Linked DNA regions of Homo sapiens. The protein of the gene in region 2 interacts with the protein of the main gene of each other region in a pairwise test. Each region holds a gene or a part of one and is shown on either strand. Other genes may lie near its edges. The genes, in order: SOX5, MORN3 and ZNF76.

Region 1 (3,740 bases), about 98 Mb from region 2:
CAAATCGAGTCAGATTCTACAGTTTTAAATGCGTAACTTATTTCAACTTTAATACTATTTAATTCTATAGAACTAAAGTTAATATAAACTATTTTGTCTCCAGTTTCTCTACTGTATTTTATACTGATTGACAATTTAAAAATAGTTTTCTATTAAATAATGTACATAATTTGATGAATAGAGTACAGGAGTTCCAAGGCCACTGACTTAAGAGATTTTTTAATTTAGTATGTACAGTTGTCACATTGTCAGAGACTTCATTGAGATAAAGCATGTACTGTGTTAAGAATTTCAATATCTCATTAGTTCTTGGTGGGAACATTAGTTGGGCCCTTTACCTGTAATACAATTATCTTACATCATTGATTACTTTCTGTGAACATTTTATTGTGTCAATAGCAGTTCTGCAGTGTATGTCGTTCACTAGTATGATTCATGACTATGTTCCTCAGAAAATGAGGTGAATAATTATAAAGAAACTTGAGATAATGTTATGAGATCCAATGGATGCATTTCTTAAAACTGTTTTGGTGCTGTTTGGTACTACATCATCCTCAGAGCAGTGCTGGAGAGTTCACGAGAAAGTTATCAAGTTTCATTATATGCTTTTTCTGTTCCTAAAGTCACCCAGTTTCTTAATTTGACAGTAATGTCTCATATGGTTTAGATTAAGCATTATATTTTTCTTAAAAATAATTTATTTTGAAATGCTATGTTCTCCATGAATGTGAATCGTGCACTGCATGCTTAAACAACTTGATGTCTCTGTAGATCTAATTTTGGTATATTTGTATCTCAAATAATTCGCCAACTCAATATTTTGGCTTAGCAATCCAAATCAAATTGTGGTCCAAGTAGCAGGCACTCACATTGGATGTACAGAGACTTGACAAGCAATTAGCAATGAATATTTAAACGTCTTCATTACCCTTGCATGAGGAATGCAGATGGCATTTGGGAAGATGGCAACCAGAGGGCACTACTGTGAATTATGTTTCTATTATTTGGTCACCTGACTATTGGAAGACTTTCTCTGGGCTTCACGCCACTCCTATACTTCTACTGTCTGGCCAAAAATAAAGCAGACATTCCAAATGTAAAACAGGTTGCTTCCATGAAATTTCTGTGCACATTTTGTAATTTGGGAAGGTTGTCTCCAAGGATCCCGGCATATATCCCTTAGGCATACCAAACCCAAACGCCAAGACTTTATAGGGGTCTATGAGAATCAGAGTTCCTTCAAAAATCGTGCTGATCATCCCCTTAATGACTTCAGGTTAATGTGCTGAACGTAAAAAGGTGAATATATCAACATTGCATCCTTTCCAGGAGTTAATGTATTATATATGTGGCCCAAAAAAAGAAAGTCTTCAAATAATTTTAATTCCTAGACTGATCTCTCATTATAATTTTTTTAAAGGAAAAAACAACACTGGAGAGTCTGACTCAGCAACTGGCAGTTAAACAGAATGAAGAAGGAAAATTTAGCCATGCAATGATGGATTTCAATCTGAGTGGAGATTCTGATGGTTTGTGAAAATTGTTCATACATATTCTAATAATGCAAGAAAGTGTCTAGGTAGTGCCAATTAAAACTGCTAAAAAATAGACTAGACAGCCACCTCATACCTCATCATTACAATAAGAGGTCACATATACTGAGCAGTCCCCATGTGCCAAGCACTCTGCTGAGTGCTTTGCAGAAATCGTCTCATTTAATTCCTAGTCAACCTAGGATAAGTCCCATTGCAGAGAAAGAGCCTGAGCCTCAGGAGTTTTGAAGCATTTTCCCCAGGTCACAGGGCTCTAAGTGTCAGAGGCAAGAATTAAATTCGAGATGGCATGATTCTAAAGCAAATGCTCAAAATGCTTAGCTTCCCAGGCTCAAGTGATCCTCCCACTTTAGCCTCCCAAGTAGCTGGGATTATAGGTGCATGCCAACATGCCCAGCAATTTTGTTTTTTTTTTTTGAGATGAGGACTTACTTACTATGGTGTCCAGGCTGGTCTCAAACTCCTGGGCTCAAGTGATCCTCCCACCTCAGCCTCCCAAAGTGCTAGTTTTATAGGCGTGAGTTACTGCATGCGGCCTCACTTCCCTATTTCTTGTACCCAAAATGAACTTTTTCAGAAATTTGTTTCTATTGGCTCATTTTTTAAGTTTCTATTTGTCAAGCCCTCACCAGAATACATGGCTCAGAGGACATTTCCACGATAGTTTCTTACATTTTGGAACCCTTCTCCCTAGTGCTATGTACTACATAGTCAAGTGTCGGGCCCACTCTCTATAACCTAACTAGAAACCAGCTGCACAGCTTTATGCTCCCTTCTCATAGGCCTTCAGACTTCTGTTTTCTGTATCATCTCTGAACATTCTAAACATCCACAGTGAGAAGAAATTAAATTGATACTCTGATTTTTAATAGCGTAGCAAAGAGGGAAAAAGAAGGAAGTGCTGTTCTTCTTATACAATACCCTGACCGGGAACATCTCTCTACTGTCAGGTGGCATCCATGCATTTTAAGCATTCCTTTGGCAGTACCGCCCTCAACTTTGTTACTACTACAGGGAAGTTCCCTGCATATAGAGAAGAGTGCACAAAGGCAAACCAGTGAGATGCATACTTTGAGAGGGGGTCCCCTTGAATCCTCCAATATACACAACTGTTTACTCTGTGCCTTGGGCCAATTCTACTTTTAAGACCAGGTCTATACTAATCAAGGGACTAAACAAACCTGAACGTTGAAACACGTAATTCTATCAAAACTGAATTTTACTCAATTGGATTCAATTTGCATTTTTCTGGGTCTAATGTTGCAAACATTTTCTTCTATTTTCAGCTCCACTTAGCTAAGATAAACCTAGCCTATGTACATTTAAAGAGCTTGTTTAGATTTGATGAAGACACATAATGTTCATTTTATTGCTTATGTTGCTGTAAGGTGTAAGAACAAGAAAAGGCAGATGTGCAAATGATCACTTGCTAGTTACAAACCCATTTTAGGAAGATGTTGCCATATATTTGCACTTATTTTGTCAATAAAAGACAATTACGGGTAATAACACATTTCATAAATTTTAAGTTGTATTAGCATGATAAAATATACCCACAGTAATCAGCATTAACACATCAAAGTTTTTGTTGCTGTCATTACCTAAATTCAATCATGCTTGTATGTGAAATATTTTCTACTTTTCATTAAATCAAAGAGCATGTTATTAATGAAAAATATTGAGAAACTTCACCAACAGGTATGCTATGTTTTGAATGTGCTGCTATAGAGGTCTTCAAGTTTGGGCAATTTTGTTTGATTCCTGTGTCTCCAAATTTAAAAATAAAGAAAAGATGAGGAATGAATACAAAGCAAGAAAAGAAAAGCAGTGCTTTTGTTGATAATACAGTCTCTACAAGTCCCCAAAGTATTTTTAAAGTTTTGGATACTATCAAAATACATCTACTTATTTTGTGATAATACCCAGTGAAAACCTACTGTCAGAGTTCTACTGGTTCTCCTTATTTTCTCTTTGCCTAAACTCAAGTATCTTGGAAGCAATTTAATCTGCTGAAGCCATTCTAAGGGGTCACATAAGGCTGGAGGAGTGAATGCAGCTTCCAAAGCTATCGTTGTTAACTCTTGAATTGTGTTTTATCATCTGTGAATCTTACTGATTGAAATGTGACTGTCCATGGGACTCTTTGGATAACTTTAAATATTAGGGGGAAAATTCAAAGGAAATTAT
Region 2 (2,207 bases):
GGGTTCAAGGGATTCTCCTGCCTCGGCCTCCCGAGTAGCTGGGACTACAGGCATGAGCCACCACGCCCGGCTAATTTTTGTATTTTTAGCAGAGATGGGCTTTCACCACACTGGCCAGGCTGGTTTCCAACTCCTGACCTCAGGTGATCCACCTGCCTCAGCCTCCCAAAGTGCTGGGATTACAGGCGTGAGCTACCGCACCCGGCCGTCCTGGACATCTTTTACGTATTCCCCTAGGACAGCCACCTCCCTACTTCTGTAGGGATGCAAGATCCAGCTGGAATTATTTCTGGGCTAGGATCCTGTTGTCTTGGGTTCTTGTTCCTAAACTGGCCGGGACTCGACTCATCAGCCAGGCTTGTCAAATGCAGGTTTCGAAGCCCTTGGAGGATTCTGATTTAAGTAGGTCTGGGTGTGTCTTTGGAATCTATTTCTAACAAGCACCCCAGGTGCTCTCACACCCAGGCAACTTAGACAAACACTCCTAGTTAGGAGCACAGTCTCTTTAACTTCATTTTTATTTACATTTTGAATACATAATACATTCACATGGTTCCAAACACAACACTGAAAAGTTGTTCTTCAGCTCCTGTTCCCAAGTCCCCAATTCTCCCCAGAGACAACCATCTTTGCCAGTTTATTGTGTTTAAATCTAGCGACATTTTGTACATAAACAAGCACACCCTCTTCCAACATTTTTTTTTTTTTTGAGATGGAGTCTCGCTCTGTTGCCCAGGCTGGAGAGCAGCGGCACGATCTCGGCTCGGCGTGATCTTGGCTCACCACTACCTCCGCCTCCTGGGTTCAAGTGATTCTCCTGCCTCAGCCTCCTGAGTAGCTGGGATTATAGATGCACTCCACCACACCCAGCTAATTTTTGTATTTTTAGTAGAGACAGGGTTTCACCATGTTGGTCAGGCTGGTCTCGAACTCCTGACCTCTTGATCCGCCTGCCTCGGCCTCTCAAAGTGCTAGGATTACAGGCATGAGCCACCATGCCCTGCCCCCACTTTTTCTTTAAAAATGGTAACCCTTTACACTCTTCTGCACATTAAGAACAGCTAGACCTAAGTTTAAGCACAGTACTAGCTTGATGACTTGTGATCCTCCCTGAACCTGTTTCCTCCTCTAAAATGGCAGTAATAGCAAGACACCTCACTGTTGTCGGGGAGTGCCAGGAGAGAATGCTTGCTGCGAAGCTGTCAGCACACGGCCTGGAATAGAGTGAGTGCTCCATATCTGGAAGTTATGATTAATTCTGCATCCTAGGGTGGCCAGGCGGGGCTTCCCAGTGCCAGAGGTACAGACTGAGAACCACACCCTTGGTGAGGCCACCCTACTTATGACTTAGGGGGCAGAGAGAACCTCAGTAAGGTCAGTGGTGTTTATTGAGGCTTTACTATGTGCTATGTGCCTCTTGCTGAGGTCTTAGCTAGAATCGTGGTATTTCAGGGTTTCTCAACATTTTTTTTTTTTTTTTTTTTGGAGATGGTGTCTCGCTCTGTCGCCCAGGCTGGAGTGCAATGGCGCAATCTCGGCTCACTGCAACCTCTGCCACCCAGGTTCAAGCAATTCTCCTGCCTCAGCCTCCCAAGTAGTTGGGATTACAGGTGCTGAATTCTTTTTTTTTTTTTTTTTTGTAGCATGGTGATATTGCACTATGCTTAACCGCATCCCTGGTCTCTACTCACTCAATGCCAGTAGCCTTCTTCCTGCCTGTTGTGACATCAAAAATGTCATACATTGCCAAATGTCCCCAAGAAAGAGTGGGGCTGAGGGAGGACAAAATCCTACCCACAGTTTAAAACCACCGCCTTATCTCATCCTCACAGTAACTAACCACAGTAACCCCAGGTGGTAAGTACTGTTAATGCCCCATATTGCAAGTGAGGAGACCAACAGAACAGAGTTTGGGTGACATTCCTGAGAACACACAGCTCCGAGATTCACGCCCAGGCACTGTGACTCCAGAGCTCACCTGCCCATTATGCAAGAACATCTGATCTTGGCTGGGAGCAGTGGCTCACACCTGTAATCCCAGCACTTTGGGAGTCCAAGGCGGGCAGATCACGAGGTCAGGAGATCGAGACCGTCCTGGCCAACATGGTGAAACCCTGTCTCTACTAAAAATACAAAAAATTAGCCTTGGTGGCAGGTGCCTGTAATCCCAGCTACTTGGGAGGCTGAGGCAGGATAATCGCTTGAAC
Region 3 (3,115 bases), on a different chromosome or scaffold from region 2:
AACAAAATGGGTCCAAGGTTGCAAAGAGAGGCCACACTAGAAGAATTCCACTGACTACTTCTATTTATCACCACTTTGCCTCTGGGCCCTGTTGTATCCAGCTCAGGGTCGCCACCTGATTGTGTCCTAACAACTCTAGAAAGCACAGATGTACTTTCTAGCAAGGGTACGGACAAGGGTCAGGTTATATAGCTAGCTAGTACACTAGTAGGACCAGACCCCAGGCTTTCAGACCCCATACCATGTTCTGGCTGCTATATGAACATGCCTCTCTTGAGAAGGACATCCCATATCCTGTTCAGATGAACAGGACCTGTCAGCCTCCAAGTAAAGAGAGAAACTACTAACTGTGCTCTAGAAGCCCCAGAGACTGAGCTGGAAGCACAGGAGGAGGAGAGGCTGTGCTGCAAGATGTGGTCTCCTCAGCCTCAGCCTCTGAAGTCTATAAAACTTAAACAAGAAGCTGGGTGGCAGTGGGGCTGTCAGAACTTCAGGGCTCCCAGAGTCCCCAGAGAGAGTGGAGAGTGCCAGCTAGTATGGCACCTCTGCCCTCCAGGGCCTGTACCTGCTGGGCACCATCCTGAGTGATCAGAGCCACCTGGGGGGCCCCATCTTCTTCAGTCACCATCGCCACCTGGGCTGGGATGTCATCTCTCTCTTCCTTCACCTCCGAAAGGTAAGCTATCCGGGGTCGTTTGGGTGGCGGACTCTCCTCGGCTGCAGAGGCGGCTGGGAGAGGAGAGCCAAGGCTGACATCTGCTACCAGATGCCATGGGGAGGCCTGGCTTGTCCCCACTCTCACCCTCTGCCCACTCCCCTTACCCTCAAGTTGCTGCTGCTCATAGAGGGCCTGCTCGCTCTCCTCCGTGGCCTCCAGCTCGCCGTGGGCACTGCGCTTGTGCATGGCCAAGGTGGAGGTCTGCCGGTAGGTCTTGCCGCAGGTGCTGCAGGTGTAGGGCTTGCAGTGTGTGTGCACCACGTGGTGCTTATACAAGCTCGAGTACTCGGTGAAGCGTTTCCCGCAGCCTGGCACCGTGCAAACGTATGGCTTCTCCCCTGGGGACACTGGGCTGTGAGGGGGGTGGGAACTGGGGCTGGCAAGGGGGAAACTAAGGGGACAGGGGTGAGGGACAGGGTTGGTGAAGGGAGAGCCAGAGGGAGGGAGAGGGACTGAGACCTGAGACTCTGAATGGACAGGGTTGGGGAAGATGGCCAGTGGAACACAGAGAGGACACAGGTGTTGAACCACTGAATCCAGAGACAAGGCGGAAAGGAAACGGGGGACAGGGCAAGGCTGGGGCTAGTGAAGGGGCTGGTAGGGGGCACTGGGGCTTATAAGGTTGAGGGTGGGAGGTTGAGAATGGTGAACAGCAGAGGCAAGAGGCAAGGATGACTGAAGTATCAGTTGTGATGGGAAAGAGGGGACACACATGCTGAGACACAACACAGAAAGCTGGATGAGGGGCATAACACTGGGGAGGGTGAGGATACACAGGAGTCATGGACGGCGGATAAGGTGAGGAGTTGAAGGTGACAGTTCACTCTGCTTCTTCCCCATCATTCCTGACCCTGGCCTCTTTTCAAGAGTTCAGTCAGAGTTGGAGAACTCAGGGTGGGTGTAGAGGGGTGGTAGGGAGCTGAGGGACCCCAGAGAGGACTGGCAATACCTTTCAGATTGGACCTAACTGGAAATTGAGGAATTACTCACTGCAAGCAGAGTTGTTCTGGGGATACCCTACCCCCAGACCAGCCTGGAATGGCTGGCACAGAAGGGTTCTGGGCTGGGAGTTGGGAATGTGTCTTAGATGGGAAGCCTACAGTAGAGGGGTTGGGGCCTGAGTGAGGGTAGTCCTCGCATGCCAGCTAGCCCACCTGTGTGGATGCGCACGTGATTCTTATAGTTGGTGGCGCTGGTGAAGCCGCGGCCACAGTGGGGCTCCGGGCAGGTGTAGGGCCTCTCGCCTGTGTGGGTGCGCACATGTACCTTGCGGATGTTAGATGTGGTGAAGGAGCGGCCACAGCCCTCAAAAGGGCACTGGAACGGGCGTTCACCTATGCAAATGGTGGGATGTGAGGAGGGGTGTGGGAAAGAGGGCCATGCTGGAGCAAGCTGGGGATGGCACTGGGCTCCAGGTCTAAGTCTGAAAGGCAAGCTGAATTCCTTTTGCCCAGGGAATGGGGTTGGAGTGGGCAGGGCCCAGCATACCAGTGTGGGTACGGACATGCTTCTGCAGGTCTCCTGAGGTCTTGAAGGCCTTGCTGCACAGCTCCTCTGGGCACTTGTATGGTTTCTCACCAGTGTGGGTACGAACGTGGCTCTTCAGTCCATAGCCTGTCCATATGTGGCAGGCAGGGGGTGAGATGAGCACCCAGTGGGGTCTCATCCTCCACCGTCCACCTCATGCACAGGCTCTCCACCTCCTTTGGCTCAAGAAGCCCATGTCTGCCTCTATCCCACCCCTGCCCTGGGCAGGGGCTGGAAAAGCCCACTCTGCCCTGCTTCCCTCTCCAGGAGCAGTTGGAGCCATACCAGAACATGAGCATGAAAAGAAACTTAGAGAACTCATGGCTAAAGGTACTAGTTTCACAGAGGGGAAAATAAGCCCAGAGAGATGCAATGGCCCACCCAATAATCCACAGCTGGTTGGCATCAGAGCTGACACAAGAGGCTGGGTCTCTCCACCAACCCTCCAGGCTCCTTCTGCTGGCCTGAACCATGCTGCCTTGCACTCCCGTAACAAGGTTTCCTCCAGAGAGAGCACCCTGCAAGTCAGAGTACTCTGACGGTAGTTTCTCCAGGAAAGCAGCCTGGTGTTGGGTTCCCTTCAGAGAGGTCCCAAACAGAACGAGAACCCTCCACCCTCAACTGGAAGCAGCCCACCAGGCAGGTTACCTGTGGCAAAGGCCTTTCCACAGCTGGGGAAGTCACATCTGTATGGACGGTCACCTGTATGAGCTCGTTCATGCACCTGTGAGGACAAGCAATCACATAATTCAGAGGAGCAAGGGTATGACCAGGGCTCTTTGGTTTTCTTTAGGACCCTGATTCTCTTCCCTCCTGTACCATTCATGTGTGTCAAGCGCTCTGTGCTGGCATTCCTGTGTACCCTCATTT

What was found.
Region 1: the proteins of MORN3 (region 2) and SOX5 interact in binary tests that used the Homo sapiens proteins (3 or more experiments, as listed by UniProt).
Region 3: the proteins of MORN3 (region 2) and ZNF76 interact in binary tests that used the Homo sapiens proteins (3 or more experiments, as listed by UniProt).

What each region holds. Positions count from the first base shown.
Region 1 is NC_000012.12:23,544,105-23,547,844, reverse strand, and holds part of SOX5 (transcription factor SOX-5), read left to right. Parts: intron 1-1,420; coding exon 1,421-1,529; intron 1,530-3,740.
Region 2 is NC_000012.12:121,648,242-121,650,448, forward strand, and holds the end of MORN3 (MORN repeat-containing protein 3), read right to left. Parts: 3' UTR 501-2,207; downstream 1-500. UniProt on the Homo sapiens protein: Assembles a suppression complex (suppresome) by tethering SIRT1 and MDM2 to regulate composite modifications of p53/TP53.
Region 3 is NC_000006.12:35,290,495-35,293,609, reverse strand, and holds part of ZNF76 (zinc finger protein 76), read right to left. Parts: intron 2,970-3,115; coding exon 2,894-2,969; intron 2,333-2,893; coding exon 2,207-2,332; intron 2,053-2,206; coding exon 1,873-2,052; intron 1,071-1,872; coding exon of another isoform or gene 1,057-1,070; coding exon 823-1,056; intron 730-822; coding exon 566-729; intron 1-565. UniProt on the Homo sapiens protein: May be involved in transcriptional regulation.